Homo sapiens: one gene and its partners. The protein of the gene in region 1 interacts with the protein of each later gene in a pairwise test. Each region holds a gene or a part of one and is shown in the gene's direction. Other genes may lie near its edges. The genes, in order: CSNK1A1, FAM83F, FAM83E, MALT1, FAM83B and FAM83G.

The links.
Region 2: the proteins of CSNK1A1 (region 1) and FAM83F interact in binary tests that used the Homo sapiens proteins (3 or more experiments, as listed by UniProt).
Region 3: the proteins of CSNK1A1 (region 1) and FAM83E interact in binary tests that used the Homo sapiens proteins (3 or more experiments, as listed by UniProt).
Region 4: the proteins of CSNK1A1 (region 1) and MALT1 interact in binary tests that used the Homo sapiens proteins (3 or more experiments, as listed by UniProt).
Region 5: the proteins of CSNK1A1 (region 1) and FAM83B interact in binary tests that used the Homo sapiens proteins (3 or more experiments, as listed by UniProt).
Region 6: the proteins of CSNK1A1 (region 1) and FAM83G interact in binary tests that used the Homo sapiens proteins (3 or more experiments, as listed by UniProt).

The regions. Positions count from the first base shown.
Region 1 is NC_000005.10:149,509,940-149,513,439, reverse strand, and holds part of CSNK1A1 (casein kinase I isoform alpha), read left to right. Parts: intron 1-230; coding exon 231-370; intron 371-1,567; coding exon 1,568-1,646; intron 1,647-3,486; coding exon 3,487-3,500.
Region 2 is NC_000022.11:39,993,742-39,997,753, forward strand, and holds the start of FAM83F (protein FAM83F), read left to right. Parts: upstream 1-1,212; 5' UTR 1,213-1,301; coding exon 1,302-1,790; intron 1,791-4,012. Other genes in the region: uncharacterized protein LOC124905155, read left to right, coding at 607-1,027.
Region 3 is NC_000019.10:48,612,277-48,616,328, reverse strand, and holds the start of FAM83E (protein FAM83E), read left to right. Parts: upstream 1-1,252; 5' UTR 1,253-1,392; intron 1,393-1,489; 5' UTR 1,490-1,621; intron 1,622-1,701; 5' UTR 1,702-2,956; coding exon 2,957-3,421; intron 3,422-4,052. Other genes in the region: RPL18 (large ribosomal subunit protein eL18), read left to right, coding at 127-250, 383-452, 882-957. UniProt on the Homo sapiens protein: May play a role in MAPK signaling.
Region 4 is NC_000018.10:58,733,965-58,737,464, forward strand, and holds part of MALT1 (mucosa-associated lymphoid tissue lymphoma translocation protein 1), read left to right. Parts: exon of another isoform or gene 1-16; intron 17-342; coding exon 343-417; exon of another isoform or gene 418-423; intron 424-1,237; coding exon 1,238-1,365; intron 1,366-3,500. UniProt on the Homo sapiens protein: Protease that enhances BCL10-induced activation: acts via formation of CBM complexes that channel adaptive and innate immune signaling downstream of CARD domain-containing proteins (CARD9, CARD11 and CARD14) to activate NF-kappa-B and MAP kinase p38 pathways which stimulate expression of genes encoding pro-inflammatory cytokines and chemokines.
Region 5 is NC_000006.12:54,863,771-54,867,270, forward strand, and holds part of FAM83B (protein FAM83B), read left to right. Parts: intron 1-2,226; exon of another isoform or gene 2,227-3,500. UniProt on the Homo sapiens protein: Probable proto-oncogene that functions in the epidermal growth factor receptor/EGFR signaling pathway. Activates both the EGFR itself and downstream RAS/MAPK and PI3K/AKT/TOR signaling cascades.
Region 6 is NC_000017.11:18,991,265-18,994,764, reverse strand, and holds part of FAM83G (protein FAM83G), read left to right. Parts: intron 1-3,500. UniProt on the Homo sapiens protein: Substrate for type I BMP receptor kinase involved in regulation of some target genes of the BMP signaling pathway. Also regulates the expression of several non-BMP target genes, suggesting a role in other signaling pathways.

The DNA.
Region 1 (3,500 bases):
AAACGACAAGGATAAACTACTAGACTTTTTTTTTTTAACTTGATTTATTGATGAAGACTAGTAAAAGCTTATGGGGGGGTGTTAAGTCTGTTCATTATCTGTTCTATTAATACTTAGGATACTTTATTTTGATATATTTGAATGCATAGAATAGATACCATTTAATGAATAAGACGCAGTTTAATTGAACAAGGTTGGAAACCTAATGTTTCTGTATTTCTCTTTTAAAGTTATTCCTTATTGATTTTGGTTTGGCCAAAAAGTACAGAGACAACAGGACAAGGCAACACATACCATACAGAGAAGATAAAAACCTCACTGGCACTGCCCGATATGCTAGCATCAATGCACATCTTGGTATTGAGCAGAGGTAAGTTCGAAAATGGAATGTGCTTATCATAGCCATAGCAGAAGCCATCAATGGGTTTTTGAAATATTTTAGTTTCTTACAATGTCTAAGGATGTTTCTTGGCTGAGGATTTGAAGGATGCTTATTAATCATTTTACCTGCTGCTTTAACCAGTGTAGAGAAGACCGTTAAATGAGGTCTTCTGGATTTTTTGTTGTTGTTGAAGGTTGTCTCTTGGGGGGAAAATACTGCGTGATAGAAAGTTAGAAGCATAAGTGCAATGTTGACGTTTCTTTTTGCAGCTGAAGATAGTACATATATTTTTAGAGCTATTTGGGGCTTTTTATACTTTAGTAATTCACGCTGAGTTTGGGAAGAATGCATTATTTATTTTTAAAAGGAAAATGTTATCAGTGTCCTAATAAACCAAAAGTGGGTTGATGGACCATCTCCTGTTATACTTCACTCAAATATATAAATTAATAGGATCTAGTTTAAAGTAAAAAAAGTAACAGTCTCTGCTCTCTTCCTATTTCTTCACATGAGTTCTAGAGTTTCGAGTTCCTTTCATCTTTTACAGTCACTTTTTGCTCCTTAAAACTAGCATAGAAGTAATAAGTAGAAAAAACAATGATATGCCTCCAGGTTAAAGAACCTCATACCAAGAATTTCAGGCTTAAGAAATATCCATGAATATCTGAATGATCTAGGTTAAACTGTAATGTCACTTTTTCTGTACGCCAAGGCATTACCTATCCTTAAATATATATATATCTAAATATATATTTGTATGTATGTGTATATAGATATGTATGCATGAATACATTCATATAGATGTTCAATTAGTTTTAAGTTGTAACTCCTTTTCAGTACTTCTGAAGTTTTTTTTTAATGAGTTTCTGCAAAACATAGAAATGTCATCCTGCTTGGTTCATTAAGCTCATTTAGAGGGTTGTTTAGCCAAATCGTTTCTGTTCTTTTAAAATTAAATTGTAAGACAGTTGTTTGTCAGATTTTGGATTCCATGGAAAAAGTTTTGTTTAGAGGTAGGTAACACATGAACTTTTTAAAATCACCTTAAATAAGTAGCTTCTTGCGTAAGACACCAAATAGTGTTCCCTCCTCATTTGGGAACATTTCTTCTGGGTACTTGACTTTCTTTCATATGTTTTTTCATAATAATAGTTCCAGTTTATAAAATTACGTTCTCTTTTCTAGTCGCCGAGATGACATGGAATCATTAGGATATGTTTTGATGTATTTTAATAGAACCAGCCTGCCATGGCAAGGGCTAAAGGTAAACCAGACTCACATTATCAGATTTTTCTCTCTCTTTTTTAGAATAAAAATATATATTGGAGAAGATAAGATTTAAGGTCCCTTCTAAGTCTGAGATTTTTCTGAGATATAAAGAATTAACCTTAATTTACTTTTTACCTTTTATCTGGGAAAATGAAACCAGATCATTTTAGTAAGAACTTAGTTCAGCTGAAGAACAGTGTCCTCTAAGAGACAGTAAGCTGGTACCCACTGGTAGCCACTAGCTCTATCTAGATGGAAGTGGGCATGGACTAAGAAAGGTGGAGACTTTCTCATTTTGATGTGTTGCCATTATGTTGAAAATGTATGTTTTTATGTACAGCAAGACCTGTTTATCCAGCAATACATGTCCTAACATTTTGTTTCTATTAGCTAGGAGTTTACTGTTACTTTTGTGAGTGTATGTTAATGATAAATCACCGTATCCTAATTTTGGGTGGGGGTGGGGGCATGGGGAATGGTCTTGCTCTGTTGCCCAAGCCGGAATGCCTGGCTCACTGCAGCCTGAACCTCCTGGGCTCAAGCAGTCCTCCTATCTCAGCCTCCTACCTGTAGCTGGGACTACAGGAACATGCCACCATGCCCAGCTAATTTTTAAATTATTTTTTGTAGAGACAGTGCCTCACTGTGTTGCCCAGACTGGTCTCAAACTCTTGGGCTCAAGTGATTCTCCTGCTTCAGCATCCCAAAGAACTGGGATTACAGGTGTGAGTCACCACTGTTGGTGTGTCCTAAATTTTAATGGCTATTTTGGTACCTTACCAGTTCTTTGAAGGAATACCTGTATTTATTGAGTGGCTGTGAGCTAGTTGTAGTGCTCAGTCCTTGGGTGGGTAGCTTTATCTAATATGAGTATTTTTAGTTTAGAAAAATATTGTGACTTATACAGTTAACTCCATTTATTAATGTCACTAATTGATGAACAAATTTTTTTGTATTAATCTGATGCCTTTGCCCTTGTGTTGAACATGGGTTAAGAAAATGCTTTTCAGGCTGAGCATGGTGGCTCATGCCTATAATCTTCAACACTTTGGGAGGCCCAGCCAGGCGGATCACTTGAGCCCAGGAGTTCAAGACCAGCCTGGTCAGTATGGCAAGACCTCACCTCTACTTTAAAAAAAAAAAATAGCAGGGTGTAGTGTCACATGCCTGTAGCCCCAATTACTCAGGAGGCTGAGCCGGGAGGATTGCTTTGAGCCCAGGAGTTCGAGGCTACAGCGAGCTATAATCGAGCCACTGCACTCCAGCCTGGGCAACCGAGGGAGACCTTGTCTCAAAAAAACAAACAAACAAACAAAAAAACAAAGAAAAGGAAAAAGGAAAGAAAATGCTTTTCAGCTGGGTATGATGATGCACACCTGTAGTCCCAGCTACTTGATAGGCTGAATCAGGAGGATTGCTTGAGGCCAGGAGTTGGAGGCCACAGGGAATTACTGCTGAGCCTGTGAATGGCTACTGCACTCCAGCCTGGGCAACATAGTGAGACCCCATCTCCTTAAAAAAATATATAGAAAGAAAGAAAATGCTTTTCAATTTTGGCCCCAGCCATTTTTACTTAAATCTAATATCCATATATTCCTATTAGACTCACCCTTTCCCTATAGCTAAAATTAAATTCTTAGAGAAGAAACTTACATCAGAAGTTAACAGTTTGGGAAAAATTTTTTTTAGATGTATTATACTTTGATTTTTTAAATTCTGGGTTAAAATTTCTCTTGAATCTCACAGGTATATGTTTATATGTCTAGTGCGTTAAACTACCATGGTTCTTCTCAGTAGCACTGAGTATATCTTTTTTATTTTATTCTTTTCCACAGGCTGCAACAAAGAA
Region 2 (4,012 bases), on another chromosome or scaffold:
GGTGAAAACCAGGTCCCCAATAACCTGTCGTTTCACAAGAAAAGGAGAAAGGGTAAAGGCGGCCGTGATGTCAGCGAAAGACCTCCAAGACAGAAAACCTTGCAGTCCCCGTGCTCTGCCTCTTTCACGGGAGACCTGGGCAACGCACACGTTGCTAGGCCTCAATTTCTTCAACTGTAAAATGAGGGGGTTGGAGGAGCTTGAAAAGCTCCTTCCAGCTCTGAGATGCTGCGCTATAAAGTGAGAGAAATGTGAACCTTTAGTTGTTATGATCTGAAAATATTTTGAATGTGGAGAATCAAATTGTAGAGCAGTGCATGAACAACATAATATGTTAATGACTAAGACGATTGTATTTAATCCGATGGGAAACAGCAGAGCTGCTGCCACCGCTGCTGTGTGTGTGCGTGTGTGTGGTGTGCACGCACGTGCGGTTTCCTTCCTTGAGCTCAAACATACATTTTGAATCACTAATATAGTAATCATGTCTCTGGCAGCCTATCTTGCCCAAACACACACGGAGAGACACCACACACCCTACTTCAAATTAAGGTGGGGGCGGGGGGAATTCCACTGCTGCTCTTTACATCATTTCTGTTTGGATAGCTATTTTTTAAAAGAAAGTTTTACAGTGAAGGTGTTGGACTCCCAGCCCAGAAGGGCTCTGATCTCAGAACTGGGACGCAAGGGTGGGGAGCTCGAGCTCTCATTAGCATTTCGCTTTTGCACACCCCCTGCCCGCTCCTCAGCCGTCACAATCCCGTCCTGCAGCAGGCCCCCCCACCAACACCGGACCCTCGACGGGGAAGGGGTCAGCTCGGCGGCCCCAGAGGCCACTGGGCCAGAACACGTGCTCCGGACTCCACGTGCGCGGAAAATGAACTCGTACCCGCGACGCGGCCGGCGGGGGCGGATGGCAGCGAGGGCCGGACAGCGAACCTTTACCCCGCGGAGGAGTCGGGGCCGGAGCCCGCACGTGGGTCTGCGACGGCCCCGCCCCCTGGGGGCGTCCCCTCAGGGACTCTAGCCCCGGCTGGTGGGCCCTGCAGGCCCGGGCCCGACCGCGTCCGCCAGGCCGCCCGGAGGTCCCGGCGAGCCCGGCGGAGGCGGCGGCCCCTCCCCGCCCGACGGCCACGCCCGCGCGGATTGGCCGCTCCCCGACGGCGGGGCGGGGCGGGACGGGCCGGGGCAGAGCTCGCGGCCAGGTGAGGCGCCCCGCCCCTCGGCGGCTCCAGGTGCGGCTGTGGGACCTCGGACCGCGGCGGGGCCGGGGCCAGGGCCGGGGCCGGGGCCGGGGCGCCATGGCCGAGTCCCAGCTGAACTGCCTGGACGAGGCGCACGTGAACGAGAAGGTGACCGAGGCGCAGGCCGCCTTCTACTACTGCGAGCGGCGGCGGGCCGCGCTGGAGGCGCTGCTGGGCGGCGGCGAGCAGGCCTACCGCGAGCGGCTCAAGGAGGAGCAGCTGCGGGACTTCCTCTCCAGCCCGGAGCGCCAGGCCCTGCGGGCCGCCTGGAGCCCCTACGAGGACGCCGTCCCCGCCGCCAACGCCCGGGGCAAGAGCAAGGCCAAGGCCAAGGCCCCCGCGCCGGCGCCGGCTGAGTCCGGCGAGTCCCTGGCCTACTGGCCCGACCGTTCCGACACCGAGGTGCCTCCTCTGGACCTGGGCTGGACGGACACTGGTTTCTACCGCGGCGTGAGCCGGGTCACGCTCTTCACCCACCCGCCCAAGGACGAGAAGGCGCCGCACCTCAAGCAGGTGGTCAGGCAGATGATCCAACAGGCCCAGAAGGTAGGCCCCCGCCTTCGCCCCCACACCGCTGGGACCTCGGCCCCAGTCCCCTGGACCGGGCCCCACCTCCCAGGCAGGGCCCGGGGCAGGCCGCCCTGAGCACCCTCTGGAAAATGGGCCCCAACCCGCCCCTACTTCCTGGGGCTGCAGTGAGGCCTGTAGAGCGAATGGCTGGGAACGTGTTTGGCAAATTACAAGGTGCTGGACAGATGTCAGCCGTCGGTATTCCAGCGTTCAGAGGCACTGGCTCTGCTCTGTACTTCTGAAACTTCCCTGTCCAGCCTTCCTCCCCAGGGAAGACTGGGGGCCGAGGCCCTGTGGTTAAAATGCACCACTCAAAGGTCTTGATGATAACCTACGTGCTGCCCAGAACATATCCCGAGCCGCTTTCTCATGTGATCGTCAAAACAACTTCAGGGAGTGGGTGGCGGTGACCTTCCCGGTCCCACCTCTGCCATGCTGCTCCTTGGACCACCCCTCTCCTCCCATAGTCAAAGCTGAGCTGGCGCCCTCACAGTCACAGCCTCTCCTGGGCCGGGTACTAGGCCCCAGCTGCCTGGAATGAATGGGGGACGGGGTATATTGAGGACCTACTGTGTGCCTGGCCCTGTGCTGGGCGCCTTGGCACAGCAGGTCACCTGACTCGGCAGCTCAGGAAAGGGCTCCTACTTAGCATATGTGTCCTGCTTGAGAGTTGGAAGGAGGGGCTGTTTCCAGGGTGGCTGGTGAGGCCAGTCCACTGTGGAACAGGTGGAAGACTTTAATCTTTATGCCTTTGGGTGGGAGTCCTGGGCAGCTTCCAGATCAAATGTAGGATGCCCCACTACATTTGAACTTTCAATAAACAACACATAACTTTTTAGTATCAGCTTATCCCAAACATGACATGAGACGTACTGATACTGAAAAATTCTTCGTTGTGTATCTGAAATTCAAATTGAATGGGAACGTTTTGTACTTTTATTTGCTAACTCTGGCTGCCCTACACTGAGATTTGTTAAGAAACAGCAGCAGCTTTTGGTGCCCAATTCAGAATAATACAACAGGAGTGGCTTGGGTTCACCACTCAAATTCCACTCAGTGAGTGAGGTTGGAGTCCTGGTTCCCCTCGAGGCTGAAGAGGCCTGAGGAGGGAAAATAGAGCTAGAAAGACCAGTGCTCAGGCTCATCTTCCTGGAAGGGGTGATTTAGGTAGTTGGGGTGATCTAGATAGTTGGCTACATTGGCTACCAGAAGGAAGGGTTAACTTTCCACTGCGCACATTTCTACCCTCCCTCTCTATAATTCCTCCCTGTCTGACTGAGTTTTCTTTGTATATTGTGTTCTGCAGAAGAAAAAGGCAAGATTGGACACAGAAGAGGGAAAAAGGATGTAGGCGGCAATACAGGCTGCAGCTGGGGTTAGGGGTCAAGTCTCATGATGTCATACTAACAAAGCCTCTATTTATTTAGCATTTAATATGTGCCATCCACTGTGTTAATGACTCACCTGCATTTTCTCATTAGCTTTTCACAACAACCGGGTGAATATGTGTTTTCCTTATTTTTGGAGAAAAAGACATCAGGATTCAGAAGTTTCTTGCCAGAGTTTCCATAGCTAGTAAGTGGCTGAGCCAGGACCCAAACTCCAAAGCCCTTGCTCTTAACCACTGTGCTACACTGCCCCAGTGTCTGAAATAATGGTGCAGTCCGATTAAGCAAGGGGTTTGAATGAAGCTAGCCTGGTCACAACCTGGAGTGCAGGTGGTGTACCCCTGTTACTAGAAGGGGGAGACTGGGCTTCTGGCCACTGAGGCATCTAGTCCCATGTGGGATGACAGGACTCTTTCCTGCATAGTGAGGTATTTTTGACTCTTTAAATATTTAACAACAGAAACTTTTAACAATTGTGAACCCATCCAATAAGTACAGGTTTAACCAGTGATTTCCTGAGGGCTGACTGTGTGCCAGGCACTACCTAGCCATGAAGAAGATACACGGTGTGGCTTTGCCCTCCAAGAGCTTAACAAATGCTAGGGCTCTGCTGGAAAGAAAAGAGTTTTTAAGGCTGAATGTGCCTAATCTGGGAAGGCTTCCTGAGGGAGGTGAGTTGCAGAATTGGAAAGGGAGAGGGTCAACTGGAATGGGCACTGTTTCAGTAAGAGAGCTTTTTGCTTCGAAAAAGCAAGGAGGTTTGATTGGCAGGTAAAAAGAGCTGTCGTGGGGGGAGGTGAGTACTGTGTG
Region 3 (4,052 bases), on another chromosome or scaffold:
TCCGGGTAGTAAACGATAGTGTTGGTTACCAGGGCTCTGCTGCGCCAAGGCAGTGGAGGGTGAGTCCTGGCAGCCCCTGGGTGACCACGCAGGGGTCTGACCCGCCAGCCTTGTCCTCTCCACCAGGTATGTGCACTGCGCGTGACCAGCCGGGCCCGCAGCCGCATCCTCAGGGCAGGGGGCAAGATCCTCACTTTCGACCAGCTGGCCCTGGACTCCCCTAAGGGCTGTGGCACTGTCCTGCTCTCCGGTGAGTGATACGTGGTCGACGGGTTTGGACTGAGCTGTGTGGCTACTGGCAGCCTTCACCCTCCTGGATCTGGGAGGCCAGAAGCTGGGCGCCAGATCCCTGTCTCACCCGGTTCTCCTTCCCCTTCCCTAGGTCCTCGCAAGGGCCGAGAGGTGTACCGGCATTTCGGCAAGGCCCCAGGAACCCCGCACAGCCACACCAAGTGAGTATCAGGCCCCCAGCCCTGCCCTCTCCCCAGACTCAGCCTGCAGGGCCAGGCCTGGCCACACTTGGGCTGCTTCTCCTATCCCTCGTACCAGCCAGCCCCAGGCCTTCTGGAACTCTCAGCTGCCTCATCCTGCCTGCTTTTCCCTTCAACACTGCTTGGAGCTGTGTTTTCCAGGGCCTGAGCAGGCATCTCCTGGGGAGCATGCAGTTCACCGGCCTTTGCCAGCCCAGGCTGGGACCCTCCAGGTGGTGGGGCAGGTGCTTCCATAGCCCCTCCTGGCTCCTTGGCTTCCCACTCTGCCAAGCTTTTCCAGCAGCATTGACTCTCCTGGGGCTGAATGTGACAGGCTTGTGGTGTTCCTGTGCCACTCCACAATGGCCTCCTTTAAGAGGGCCCCCCTCTCACTCCCTCCTCTCCCCACAGACCCTACGTCCGCTCCAAGGGCCGGAAGTTCGAGCGTGCCAGAGGCCGACGGGCCAGCCGAGGCTACAAAAACTAACCCTGGATCCTACTCTCTTATTAAAAAGATTTTTGCTGACAGTGCTCTGTGTGTGTTATTGGGGGATGGGTTGGAGAATTGGTTCCTGCGGGTGAGAATGCATTTGGTTTGGGGACAGGGACGTCATGCCAGTGAAGACCAGCCCTCTTCCTGCCCCCACTGCCCCGGAAGCTCCCTGCCTCCTTCCCAACAGCCAGGTGGCAGGTGTTCCCACACCGGCTTCCTTGGGTCAGCCACGCCCGCCCCTCTTAAAGGATCCTGTGCCCCTCCCTGGTGCTGGGATGGCGGGTGGGGCGTGGACCGGGAAGTGCAGGGTGCAGGCTGGCAGGGCTGTGGGGAGGGAGAGACTGCCTGGGAACAGGTGAGGCAATCTCAACCCCCCGGGGACCGGGAAGCCTGAGTCTAGAGGGGCGTTCACCCCCTGGGAGAGCACAGGTAAAGAAAGCGTGTGAGCCGCACCCCCGGACCTCCTCCAGGGGCCTGTGGGGGCCCTCCTGTGTTTACACAAGGGGCCGGGCTCCCTGGATTCCAGGTCGAGGCCTGATGAGTGAGGCCAGAAGCCGGGAAGCACCGCAGAAGTAGAAGCCGGGGAGCCACAGCCTACGTTCTCGGAAAAAGCAGGCACTGGAAGGGAGGCCATTGAGCCCGGCACTAGCCGGTGTGGGTGAGCCCCGGCGATGGGGGGGATGGGTGAGGGTGGGGCGGGGAGGCTGGCCTGCCTTGACTCCTTTCTTCTCTTTGCAGCTCCCTGCTGTGGTCTGGAGGAAGCAGCGGCCTGGGTTGGTGGGATTGGAATGAAGGGCTTCTGGTTTGCAGGGATCAAGGGTCCAGGGTCCCCGAGGTTGGGTCAGGAGCCTCAAGGGGATAACTGAGGCTTGGGAGGGAGACAGGGCGAGATAGAGACTGGCCCCTGTCCGGGAAGAAGCGTCCGGGTAGCTGGCAGGAGATAGCATTTAGGCAGAAACCAGGCTGGGGGCAGCTTGGGTAGGGCTCCCCGCAGATCAGAGGACGGCCTGGAACAGGTCCCAGGGCCAGGCCCCAGGCAGGGGCAGCCAGCCTGAGGAGGGTGGCTGGTTAGGTGGCACTCACACCTAGATGGGCTGTGAAGATCATAGACCTGTCCCATAGTAATGGAGACCCCTGTAGCGCATTTCACCCTCCACTGCAGCAGCTGGAAGGAGTGTGAGGAGGGTCCAGGGAGCAGGGTCCCCCATTGACAGGGTAGGGAAGGGTTTGCCAAGCCTTCGGCCTTTAAGGCTGAGCGAGCAGGCCCAGTGGAGAGGCATCCTGGCTGGTCTGCGGGTGAGAGCTGATGAGCAGGAGAAACTCGTGGGGGCTGTCAGATTTGGCCAGAGACAGATGCTCCAACAGGCAGATACTGTGACTGTCAGTCGGAAGCCATTGGCGTTTGCCAGACAGTGGAAGGAGAGGGTCAGTTCGTCGTGCTCTTGGCCGGGGGCAGGCAGGCAACCTGTCGTGCCTTTAAGGACCTTTGGGTGATTAGAGACAGGCAGGCAGCTTGCCGCCTGGAAATGATCAAGTGGTCAGCCTGACCAAATTCAGGACAGCTGAAGGGTCTGACTGGGCACTGTGTGACTGGTGGGTTGGAGGCTGTCGTGTGGCTGAGCAGAGATGGCCAGCTGATGGGTCACACAGTTGGGGATGGTGTCAGGAGGTCAACCTGACCAGCAGAGACGGCTGGCAGGAAGGTCACGGAAGGCCAGCCAGGCATGGTGCCACTGGGTGCAGGCAGGTGGCGGATCTGAGTGGCCTGACACATTGGATGGTCGCTTATTTGGGCAGCGTGATTGTCAGAACAGTGTGGCAGGGGCTGCTGCAGGGAGCCATTTGGACATCTGCAGGGCCCCGCCGGAGGCCTCGGATGGCCACGTAGGGTCTGCCTATCAGGAGAACCCCCAGATGATCACAGTCCCCAGAGACAGCCAGACCCCCGGGGACCCAGCCTCTCACAGTCAGTCCTCCCACCCGAGTGACCCCGATGGCGGCCTCCCAGCTGGCGGCGCTGGAAGGAGTGGACTCCGGTCCCAGGGTGCCCGGGGCCAGCCCCGGCTTTCTATATTCCGAGGGCCAGCGGCTGGCACTGGAGGCTCTGTTGAGCAAGGGCGCGGAGGCGTTCCAGACCTGCGTGCAGCGCGAGGAGCTGTGGCCCTTCCTCAGTGCGGATGAGGTTCAGGGCTTGGCAGCGGCAGCTGAAGACTGGACAGTGGCCAAGCAGGAGCCCAGCGGGATGGCAGAGGGAGCCACCACCACCGATGTGGACGCGGGCAGCCTGAGCTACTGGCCTGGGCAGTCGGAGCAGCCGGCGCCCGTCCTGCGGCTGGGCTGGCCAGTGGACTCTGCGTGGAAAGGCATCACCCGGGCGCAGCTGTACACCCAGCCTCCTGGAGAGGGTCAGCCGCCCCTCAAGGAGCTGGTGCGGCTGGAGATCCAGGCTGCCCACAAGGTGGGTGTCGCGGGGGCCCTGTGTCCATTCACCAGACTGGGACGGGGACCCAGGCATTCTCTCCCTTGTCCTCCTGGGACTTGCAAGCGCACACCCCTACCCTAAAGGACCTATACCCCTGGGACCCAGGAGTGCACACCTTCCAGCCCCAGGACTCAGGTGCCTACAACCCCAGACCTCATCCTTACTCTCAGAAAGGGGGGCCCGGCCGGGCGCGGTGGCTCACGCCTGTAATTCCAGCACTTTGGGAGGCCGAGGTGGACGGATCACGAGGTCAGGAGTTTGAGACCAGCCTGGCCAACATAGTGAAACCCCGTCTGTACTAAAAATACAAAAATTAGCCGGGCATGGTGTGGGCGCCTGTAGTCCCAGCTACTCGGGAGGCTGAGGAAGCAGAATTGCTTGAACCCGGGAGGCGGAGGTTGCAGTGAGCCAAGATCAAGCCACTGCACTTCAGCCTGGGCGACAGAGCGAGACTCCATCTCAATAAAAAAAAAAAAAGAAAGAAATGGGGGCCCCTACCCTCCCCCAAGACCTGGATGCCCTTAGGTATCGATGCCCCTTGAACCTAATTATGACACCCCCAGTCTCAGTCATTCCCCCATCCCCTCATCACCAAGCCAGGGGTTTC
Region 4 (3,500 bases), on another chromosome or scaffold:
AAGCAGATGTTTGGAGGTTTGGATCCCATTTGTCTGCCATTGCCTTTCTAAGGAGTAGAACCAATGACTGTTCCTCTAGATTTACTATTTTTTTGCTTGCTCAGCATTTACCAATCAAAATCCAATGCCAGAGTTCAAATGCAACTCTAGTTTTAAAGCTAACAAGGAGTTAGTGGGTTATTTTGGGTAGATATGTAGCTACCTAGATGAAAAATTTTGAATCTATAATTTTAAATTATGTATTCTAAAAAACTGTTGTATTTTCTCATTATTTATACCCTTTTAAGAATGCTCTTTAACTTTTCATATTTCTATCTGCCCTCCTCCGCCTCCCTTAAATAGAAATGACTACGATGATACCATTCCAATCTTGGATGCACTAAAAGTCACCGCCAATATTGTGTTTGGATATGCCACGTAAGAACATTTGATGTTTACGTTGAAGTTTCCTTTATTGTTTGATGTCTTTTTGTTTTTGCTTTTTAGGAGCAGGGGTCTTAACTCTGTCACCCAGGCTGGAGTGCAGAGGCGCCATCATAGCTCACTGCTCCTGGGCTCAAGCGATCCTCCTGCCTCAGCCTTCTGAGTCGCTGGGATTACAGGCATGTGCCACTGTGCCTGGCCCCTGAGGGTTTTTTGATTATAGATTAGAGGCCTAGAAAATACCTATAGACATGTAGGCATAAATTTACCTCCTTGATATTCTGCGTAGAAAATTTTAAATGATCGACTTTAGCATTCCATATCATGGTATCTTAATTATTAAGCCCAAATTGGGCATGTAATTCCTGCTTAAAGATTAACTCTTTAATTATCAATGTCATGTGAGAGGCAGAAGAGAAAATGAAGCTTATTGGTGTATACAGAAGTCCCATGTGGCAAGTGTTTGCTTTTCTAACATTTTCTTTTTAAAAAATTATTTTTATTGGATATTGACAAGTTATAATTGTATGTATTTATGGGATACAAAGATATGCTATGATGTACGTATTCAATGTGGAATGATTGAATCAAGATAATTCACATATCACCTCAAATACTTATCTTTTTTCCTAACTGAAACATTGTACCCTGTGACTAACAGTCCCCACGCTGTCCCCACCCCCCCCCAGCCTCTGGTAACCACCATTCTGCTGGGTGCTTCTCTGAGTTCATTTTTATTAGCATCCACATATAAGTGAGAACATACAGTATTTGCCTTTCTGTGCCTGGCTTAACTTCTTTTTCTATTTTTAAGGTGTCAAGGAGCAGAAGCTTTTGAAATCCAGCATTCTGGATTGGCAAATGGAATCTTTATGAAATTTTTAAAAGACAGATTATTAGAAGATAAGAAAATCACTGTGTTACTGGATGAAGTTGCAGAAGGTAAAATAAAAAATAAAGAGAAAAGTACTCAGAAAAAGGAGAGCAGGGGAGACACACCTATTCAGGGTTCCCTCTCTGGTGATTGTTTTATTCTTATTATGTGGGTTTGGAATTAGTACCTACTTTATAAAACAATTTTTATATTAATATAACGTTCAGCAACACTTCTGCTATTTAATGTCATCTTTCCTTCCCTTTTGACCTAGCTCTCCACCATCTGTGCAGCATTACTCAGACTACAAGGCTAAGCCTCGGCACAGTCATTAATAAAGTTGAATTCTCAGAGCTCTACTTTGCTTCTATGCCCAGTGCCTTGGTACTGGCAAATCTCCCTATTTGAGGGTGGGTGGGTGGCATGGAGGGGTGGTGGGGAATTGTCCAGTGAGCAGTCTCTCCCAGGATGGGAGAGAGAAAACTTTACAGAAATTTTTAGACACTGCTGGGAAAAGCTGAGTTCATTTTTTTCCCTGATGAACTTAGTAGTTTTTAAATCCTGATTTAAGGATGTGATCCTAGGGGGTCTAATGCCACATCTTCCATTTCTATCTGTTCTCCCTGCCTGCTGGTATAATGCTGTGCATATGTCAGATGCTGAACAAGTACCTATTATTTCAGTAGATTGCACTGTGTTTTTTGAAAAAACATTTTATAAGCCATAGCAAAAAGAAGGTAACTTGGCCAGGTATGGTGGCTCAAGCCTGTAATCCCAGCACTTTGGGAAGCTGAGGCAGGAGGATCACTTAAGGCCAAGAGTTCAAGACCAGCCTAGGCAACATAGCGAGACCCTGTCTTCAAAATAAAAAATAAAAATAAAAAAGAAGAAATTATTTTACAAACTAGCACCACTAGAAAATGGAGTTTCATGGATGTTCCAGTGATGGCAGTTTGGGTATAAGGTGTTTGACCAACTGTCAGCCATATTTATTTTCATGTTTTTATCTGTGTAGCTATTTTAGATCACTTGACTTAGCCACTTTTCCATTTAACATAACCAGCCAGGGCTTTGGACTTCCTGCCACCCTCCCGCTTCATCCAGAGAAGTTCCACTTTTATTTGTTTTCTACATTAGGCTTCTTCTGAAGCTTACATTTGAAGGAAAGGCTCTGCTGCTTTAAAAAAAAAAAAAGAAAGAAAGAAAACCTTTGGATTATGTCAGTTATATTCAAACTGAGATCCAGTAAGGTGCTCCAGAAACTCTACAGTGTTTTATTTCAATTTCGTTTTTAAGTCCATTTTAACTATTTTAAAACTTAATAAAAAGCACCATGCTCACTCACATATGATATTTACCAAATTGTCATAGCAATGAATGGCATCCCGATATGTGCTGTGAGGATATTTGAACTTCTTATAAACATCTTAGACAGTTTTGCTTTTCGCTGATCTTTTTCAGTCCTACCATGTCTGCTTAACCAGAATTGCCCAGGCAGGAAGACCCTGTAGTGTACATGGAGCACACTCAGCTCAGTGCCGTGCACATTGTGCCCTTCGTGGGTAACGGCCCACTCATTGTACAAAATAAGTAAAGGCCTAATAGTATCATGATAAATAATACAGTTAAATCTAGCCCTTATTTTGAGTTTTGGATGCTTTGTGTCTGACCCCTGTCTTAGTAGTAAAGAGCAAAAGTAGTTGTATGAAATTTTTCACAAGTCATCCAATTTTGAAACAAAACTTTGCTGTTTCTCCCTTTGGATCTTCCAGATTACTTAATTGAAACTCATTCCATGGCTGGGCATGGTGGCTCACACCTGTAATCCCAGCACTTTGGGAGGCTGAGGTAGGAGGATTGCTTGAGCCCAGGAATTCAAGACCAGTCTGGGCAACACAGCAAGACCCCATCTCAATTTAAAAAAAAAATTATTTGGGGCCAGGTACAGTGGCTCATGCCTGTAATCCCAGCATTTGGGGAGGCTGAGGCAGGAGAATCACTTGAACACAGAAGTTTGAGACCAACCTAGGCAACATTGTCAGACCCCCCATCTCTATAAAAATTTAAAAAATTAGCCAGGCATTATGGTGTGCACCTGCAGTGCCAGCTACTCGCGAGACTTAGGTGGGAGGATTGCTCGAGCCTGGCAGTTTGAGACTGTAGTAAGTATGACCACACCACTGCTCTCCAGCATGTGTGACAG
Region 5 (3,500 bases), on another chromosome or scaffold:
GCCACTTTGTCACTATTTTACATATCTGTTTTGGCATCTAACATGTATGTTTTTTGTTGATTTCTGCAGATTATATTAATGTGTCTCTATTTATTCATCCAAATGATTACTGATCAGGGCCAGAACAAGAATACGTCACTTTGGTATGGCACAAGACACAACTTTATCAGGATAGCCTTGTAGTTTAGATGTTGGTAAAATAATAATTTAATTTTATTTGCATTTTTAAGCCATGTATAATCCTTTGGAATTTGAGCATTCAGTATAAGCTCTCTCTGTAAATGGTTTATTTTTTCTTAATGAATTTATTTACAGGAATTATTCAATAAATGCTTCCAAATGACATTGAATAATTGTGTTTTAATGTCATTAACATGTATTGGGTATTTTTTTCCCCCAATATCTAAAATTCCTGTAGTTTATATCTAAGAAGGCAAATAGCAGCCAGTACAAACAAACCCTGGAATCATATTGGTATGAAAGTGATATTGCTATCCCCTCCCTCCAGTTAAAGTAAATTGAGGAAATTAAAGAATGAGTAGGTATTGAGCAAATGGGATTCCCATTTGAGATTTAGAAAATGAATTGGAAGTATGTTTATTGTTTTTATGAGTTTGATAAGATGGGTGATTCTACTGGTAATCCATCTGTGGAGATGTTTGCACCCAACACCCTGTGACTGAGTGCGTCATGTATTTATACTTTCTGTGACCTGCTGAATATCATGCCGTGCAGATGACTGTAATCTGTGCTATTGGGCCATGTTGTTATAAGTATTATTATGAAGCCAGCTTAGAATTTTTTAATGAGTTTGGATGTCAACATGAGATATCAAATTGCACTTGACAGCTTGAATATTATAGTCAATTTTTAATTTAATAGAAACTTCTTTCATGTTTTAATTGTTATCTTAAATTTCTGGTAATCAAATGAGAAGACAAACAATCTTGACAGCTGAAGAAAGAAAAGATATATGATTTTCAACTGTTGTGGACCATGGGTAATGATTTTATATGAAAGAGATGTTCTGAAACAATCCTTTATGAAACATTTTCTTACATTATGTAGACAGACATTTTGATACATATCATAAAGTCAATTACCAAAAGAAATAACAAATTCAAGAATTTTTTCCCTCAATATATGAGAGTTTGCAAAGTATTTCTTAATAAAATTGCTTAACATTGAAGTTATATCAGATAACTAGTTTAACTATATCATTTAAGCTGCAAAAACCAATCATTTCTAAATGGTAAATTTACTTGGTAATTTAAGTTTATTTAAAAATTTTGAAGGTTTCAAAATAAAAGCATTTTTGTACGCATTTGTATCAGCTGCCTAGTGCAGCTGTAACGAAGTACCAAAAATATTGGCTTAAAACAGCTGAATATATTCTGTTATGCTTCTGAAGTCTAGATGTTTGGAATCAGAGTGTCAGCAGGGCCATGCTCTCTTTGAAGTGCTCTAGGGGAGAATCTGTTCCATGCATTTCTCTTATCTCTGTTCTTGTAGGCAATTCTTGGCATTCCAGTCTCTGCCTCTGTAGTCACGTGCAGTTCTGCCTTTGTGTCTGTCTCTGTGTCCCCTCTCTCCTTATAGACACAAGTCATATAGTCATATTGGATTAGGATCAGCCATGGTCTAATATGACCTCATCTTAACTTGATTACATCTGCAAAGACCCTATTTCCATGTAAGGTCACATTCACCGGTAATGCAGGTTAGGACTTCGACATATCCTGTTGGAGGATGTAGTGCAACTCATAAAGCATTCAATACTTGGAGAGAAACAGCTTAAGAGAGAGACTGGAAAATGGACTGCAGTGATGTTAGCACCTGTGATATTTTTTATATTTGTTTCAGTCAAAATTCTGACTTTGGTTTATTGGCTTGCACATTAGGTAATTATAGCCTCGGACTTTTGATTTAAAAAAGCTGTAATTTCTCTTTGGAACATTTTCCCACTGACCTATTACATCAGAAGCCTATTCAATGAATTCTCTCAGGTCAGAAACTAGGAACAAACTGATACTAGGTTTGGTTGTTTTATACTGCAGATGATTAAATAGTTACAAATTGTATGATATTGCTAATGGTATGAAAAAACATCTCTTTTCAAATCTTAAAATCTCTTATCAAATTTATTACATATTTATAGTAATTATACTATAGCAGATTGTGAACATGTAAAATAGTCATAATAATAATAATAATAATAATAATAATAATAAGGTTGAAATGCATTACCTTATTTATTCCTTAAAATAACCCAAGAAGATAAAGACTGTTGTTATTCTCCTCTCTACATCTGCCCAAACTGAGGCTTGTGGACGTGTGTAACTTGTCCAAGAGCTTCATAGTAATTGATGAAGCAGAGTTTTAACCTGGCAATTTGACCCTACAGATGAACTCTTATCTTGTGTGCTATAGGTTTTTTTTTTTTCTATCTAAGTCTCATGACATTGCTCATCAGTAAGATTTTTTTCATTAAACTTTTTATTTTGAGATAATTGTGGTTTCACATATAGTTAAGGGCAAAAATCCAGAGAGATTCTTTGTATCCTTTACCCAGTTTTCCCCAGTGCTGCTGTCTTGCAAAACTATAATACTGTATCGTAACCAATATGCTGATATTGATACTGTCAAGATATAGAATATTTCTATAACTACAAAAATTCCTCTGATTGCCTTTTTATAGCCACATCTACCTCTCCGACTGTCATTTTAAGAGTGCAGCATCTAACCAAATGGAATTATTCAGCATGTAAACTTTGGAGATTGGTGTTTTTTCATTCAGCATAATTCTCTGGAGAGTCATCCAGGTTGTTGCATGTATTAGTAGGCCATTTATTTTACTGCCAAGTAGTATTCCACAGTATGGGTGTACCATAGTTTAATATTCACCTGTTGAAAGACGTTTGGGTTGTTTCCATTGTCAGGCTATTATGAATAGAGCTGCTATAAATATTTGTGTACAGGATAAGTTTCAACTTTTCTTGGATAAATCACCAAAGTGCAGTTGCTGTGTTGTATGTTAGTTGCATGTGTCATTTTATAAATGAAACTGCCAAACTGTTTTTCCAGAGCAGCCCATGAATTGAAAGCAATTTTTATGACTTATTTTATATCCTTTGTATTTATAGAATTTCAGTGGAATTTCTACTTGATACAAATGACCCTAAAGCTCAATATCAAATGCAATTTTTAATTTTTTTTGAGGCATGGATTTGTAAGGCCACTTTTTTTCTGGAATGAGTCATTTAACTGTTAGATAAGCCTAATGGTCTGCTCAGCTTACATGGCATAGTGATATCTTTTTTTTTTTCTCTACTCATTAACTCTACTGTGTATGATAAAAGAATATGCTTCCTGGGAGTTTTTAATAGTTATTAATAAAATAATTCCTTATTTTTTATATATATATTTAAAGGCACACCTAATTAATTTTGTCCTCAAATAAAGCCCTCCAAATGTTCAGGGATTGAACTGCTGAGAGTGCT
Region 6 (3,500 bases), on another chromosome or scaffold:
CTGGTTCTTCAGGAAGTTTGCTTATGCCTGGTCTAGGACTTATTTGTCAACTGCTGAGGCAGTATCCTTCTGAGGACACCCCCTGCAGGACCTGTGTGTTAGGAGGGGTTTCTGTTCTGGCTGGGGGCACATACACTATTCCCGGTCCTGCGTGAGCACCAGCAATTGTTCCAGCCACCCCTTTCCGGTGGTTCTCTGCTCAGCCTCCCCTTTCCAGTGGTTCCCTGCTCAGCCTCAGTAGTTTCCTCACGTTCGTGTGCTGCTCGGCTATCAGCTGAAGACTCCAGGGGACCCTCTGCAGGTCTCTGGAGTTCACTCTGTGCAGCTCTCTCCCCTGCGGCACTCCGTCCTGCAAATCCTAGCTGCTACACTCAGAGTGAACCCTGTCTCCTCAACTCAGGGAGACCACAAGACTCCACGGGGGCGCCCCTCCCTGTGCTGCAGCCTGGAAATAGTGGGGTGATCCTAGGGCTCAGCTGGTTTGTTCCTCTTCTCTCAGGAATCGCTGTGCTGATTGAAGCCTGTTGTCCATGGCTTCATAGATTTTATCCGGGTTTTTTATTGCTAAGGCAGGGGGTGAATTCCGTCTCTGTTATTCCATCATGGCTGTAAGTGGAAGTTGAATCCAAGGTCATGATGGCCACTGCCTCAACCTTTAAGACAGTCTGCAGCATTCCTGTGAGCAGCCCTGATGCGTCACTTACAGCCTTCCAGCTGGCCCGGAGGGTAGTGAGACGCTGCTGGCCTGTTCACCCCAGAGGGAGCTGTGGGTCTGGTGGGATGGGACTTGGGTTGGTGGGAGGACGAGGAGGGTCCGTGCAGCTGCCGTTTGTGGATCCCCTGCTAGGGCTTCACCTGCATGAATTCATTTTAATTTCCAACAACCTTGTGGGTGGGGATTGTTATTATCCCCATGAGGAAATGAAGGTACTTGCCCAAGGTCATGCAGCTTCCCAGGAGGAGCTGAGATCGGAGCCAGCGGGTGCAGAGCCCACACTGCCACTGTCTGGGCATCTGCCATCAGACCTGGAGAATAACGAACCCCAAGATGAGAGACTCTGTCCACCCCCGGCACTTCTCAGGTGGGAAAGTGAGGCCCAGAGAGGCCTAGGGACTTGTCTGCAGTGTGTGCAGTGTCTGTGGCTGCTTCAGGGCTCCAGGTTCTGGGGCAGGCTTGAGGGTATCTGTCCTCCACCTGCCTGGAGCATAGTGAGGAGAGAGAATATGGCCGCCTCTCTCCTCTCTCTGAGCCGCCTCTAGGGATCTCTGAGGCCTAGGAGGGTGAGGTGAGTGTAAGGCTTGTCACGTGCAGGTTGGAAACTGTCCCCTCTTACCCGAGTCTTGCGACTCAGTCCTTGGGAGACTCCATTGCTGTGCCTGAGAAGAAATACGCAAGTGATACACGCTCAACCCAGACAGGCCAGAGTGACGACAGGGGAGGCTGGGGCTGCACTGGAGTTGGGATTTGAAAAAAGGTAGTTGTCCGAGCAGATGCAAAATGGGCAGGTGGCAAGGAGAACAACATGTAGGAGACACAGTGGCTTGAGGCAGGACGCGTCGGGGAGAGGGATCAGGAAGCGTCGGGGAGAGGGGTCAGGATGCGTTGGTTTAGGGCCCCCCTGAAGAGGTGCTGCTGCAGAGGCTGGGCCTGTGCACCCGTGGTTTCCCACCATGCTCGGAACCAGGCCAGCCCGTCTCGCCCCACCCCTCCTCCCCAGGCACCTCTGTGGAGACCTGTTCTACCTACTCGTCCTGCGAGGGCACTTCTGCTTCAAGAGTGGTTCTGTGGTCACAGGAAGGCTAGGAAACAGCTGTTGTGGGTGTCAGGAGCCACAGGCTGTTGTTGGCACCTGTGAGGCAGGAGCTGTGTGGGGAGGCAGGGAGAGGGCGGCCACCAGCACTTCCTCTCCCAGACCTGTGGGCGCAATGAGATGTGTTAGCCGCCCAGACAGGCCCTGCCCGGCACCAGGCAGGGAACAGGAGTTGGGGTCCCTCGGCAGGGACATCAGAGACGAAGGGCCTTGGACATCTTGTCCACCTTCTCCTTTGACAGGTGAAGAAACTGAGACCTGGAACGCAGGTGTGGCTCACCCAAAGCCCAGCCTAGAGCTTGGGCGCCGGTGCTGGACCGACTCCGCCCGCTCCACCCTTGCTCAGGGGGCTCTGGCTGGGGCTGAGGGAGATTGAGGAGGCCCACGCCTGTGCTCCCTGCCTCTGTGACCTAAAGCCCTGTCCCACCCCCAACGCCAGCAGCCAGTGTTACGTGGCTTCAGGCCGTGTCTGCTGGGGGGCAGTGGCCACAGGTGGGGTTCTCCTTTGTGTGAGATGCTGTCACCCCTGCATCCCAGCTCAAGCTGCTCCGGTCACTGCCCAGGTGTTGGAGGTGCTCCTGGCAGGGCACTGGGGATCCCCATGCAGCACCACCTTGGACCAGTGCCCTCCCCTCTCCCAGCTGCAGTTTCTGCATCTCTCACATGGAGGCGGATGTCCCCCTGTCCCAAGGACACAGAGGGAGGTGGGGGATTCGAGACACAGGCAGAAGGCAGGGTGGAGAAGGCCGGCGGATCCACTGGGCAGGGAGGGTACAGCATGGGAGGAGGTGCTCATCGGGCGGGGCGCTGGAGGGCTTGTGCATATGGACACCCCTGGACAGACATGCCGGAGGTGTTTGGGCACCAGGAGCCCCCAGGGAGAGGCCTGGGCTGGGGCAGGCGCAGGCTCGCTGTTGGCTCACTGGAGGAGTGCCCACATCCCTGCTGGTGTTTCCCTCCAGTGCAGCCTGCCTGCCTCTGCCCCCCAGGCATGGCCATCCTCCCACACCCTGCCATCTTGGGCCATCCTCCCACACCCTGGCAGGAGTCAGATGGTTGTCTTGGGCATTGGGCCTCCTGGGTTCTGCAGCTGCATCTTCGAGGCCTCAAGGCCGCCCAGCAGAGGCCTGTCCATCAGTAAGATGCACAGGGACCACTGGGCTCCCTCCTTCACTTGGGAGCTGGGCTGTGTGGCCTGCGCAGATTCCAGGCTGCTGGGCTGGGAGCTGCCCGTCGGCTTTGACAACGGTACCTGGGGTGCAGGACACACACGTGCCCGCCTGCCATGCCTGCCCCTGTGCCAGCTGCTCACATGGACATGGCTGGTTCCTGCCTCAGGAGCGGAACAAGCTCAGTGATGGGACCCAGGCCACCCGCCTCCTGCCCAGTGTGGCCCCTGACATAACAGCAGGTAGAGCTGGTCTTTGGAGTCAGCCTCCCCTCTCATTTCCACAGCCCTTGCCCTGCCCAGGACCTCTGAGAGGACGTGTGGGCTTGGGGCTACGTGAAGCATCTGGTACTTTTCTTGACTTGGGCCAGCTCTGACAATGTGTGAACTGGATAGAACCACAGGGGCAAGCCAGGCCCACACCCCCATTTGACAGATGGGGAAGCCAAGGGCCCAGGAGGGGCTGTGGTCCCAGATGCCCTGATTCCTGCAGTCATTCCCAGACCAAGCCAGTTGGTCTT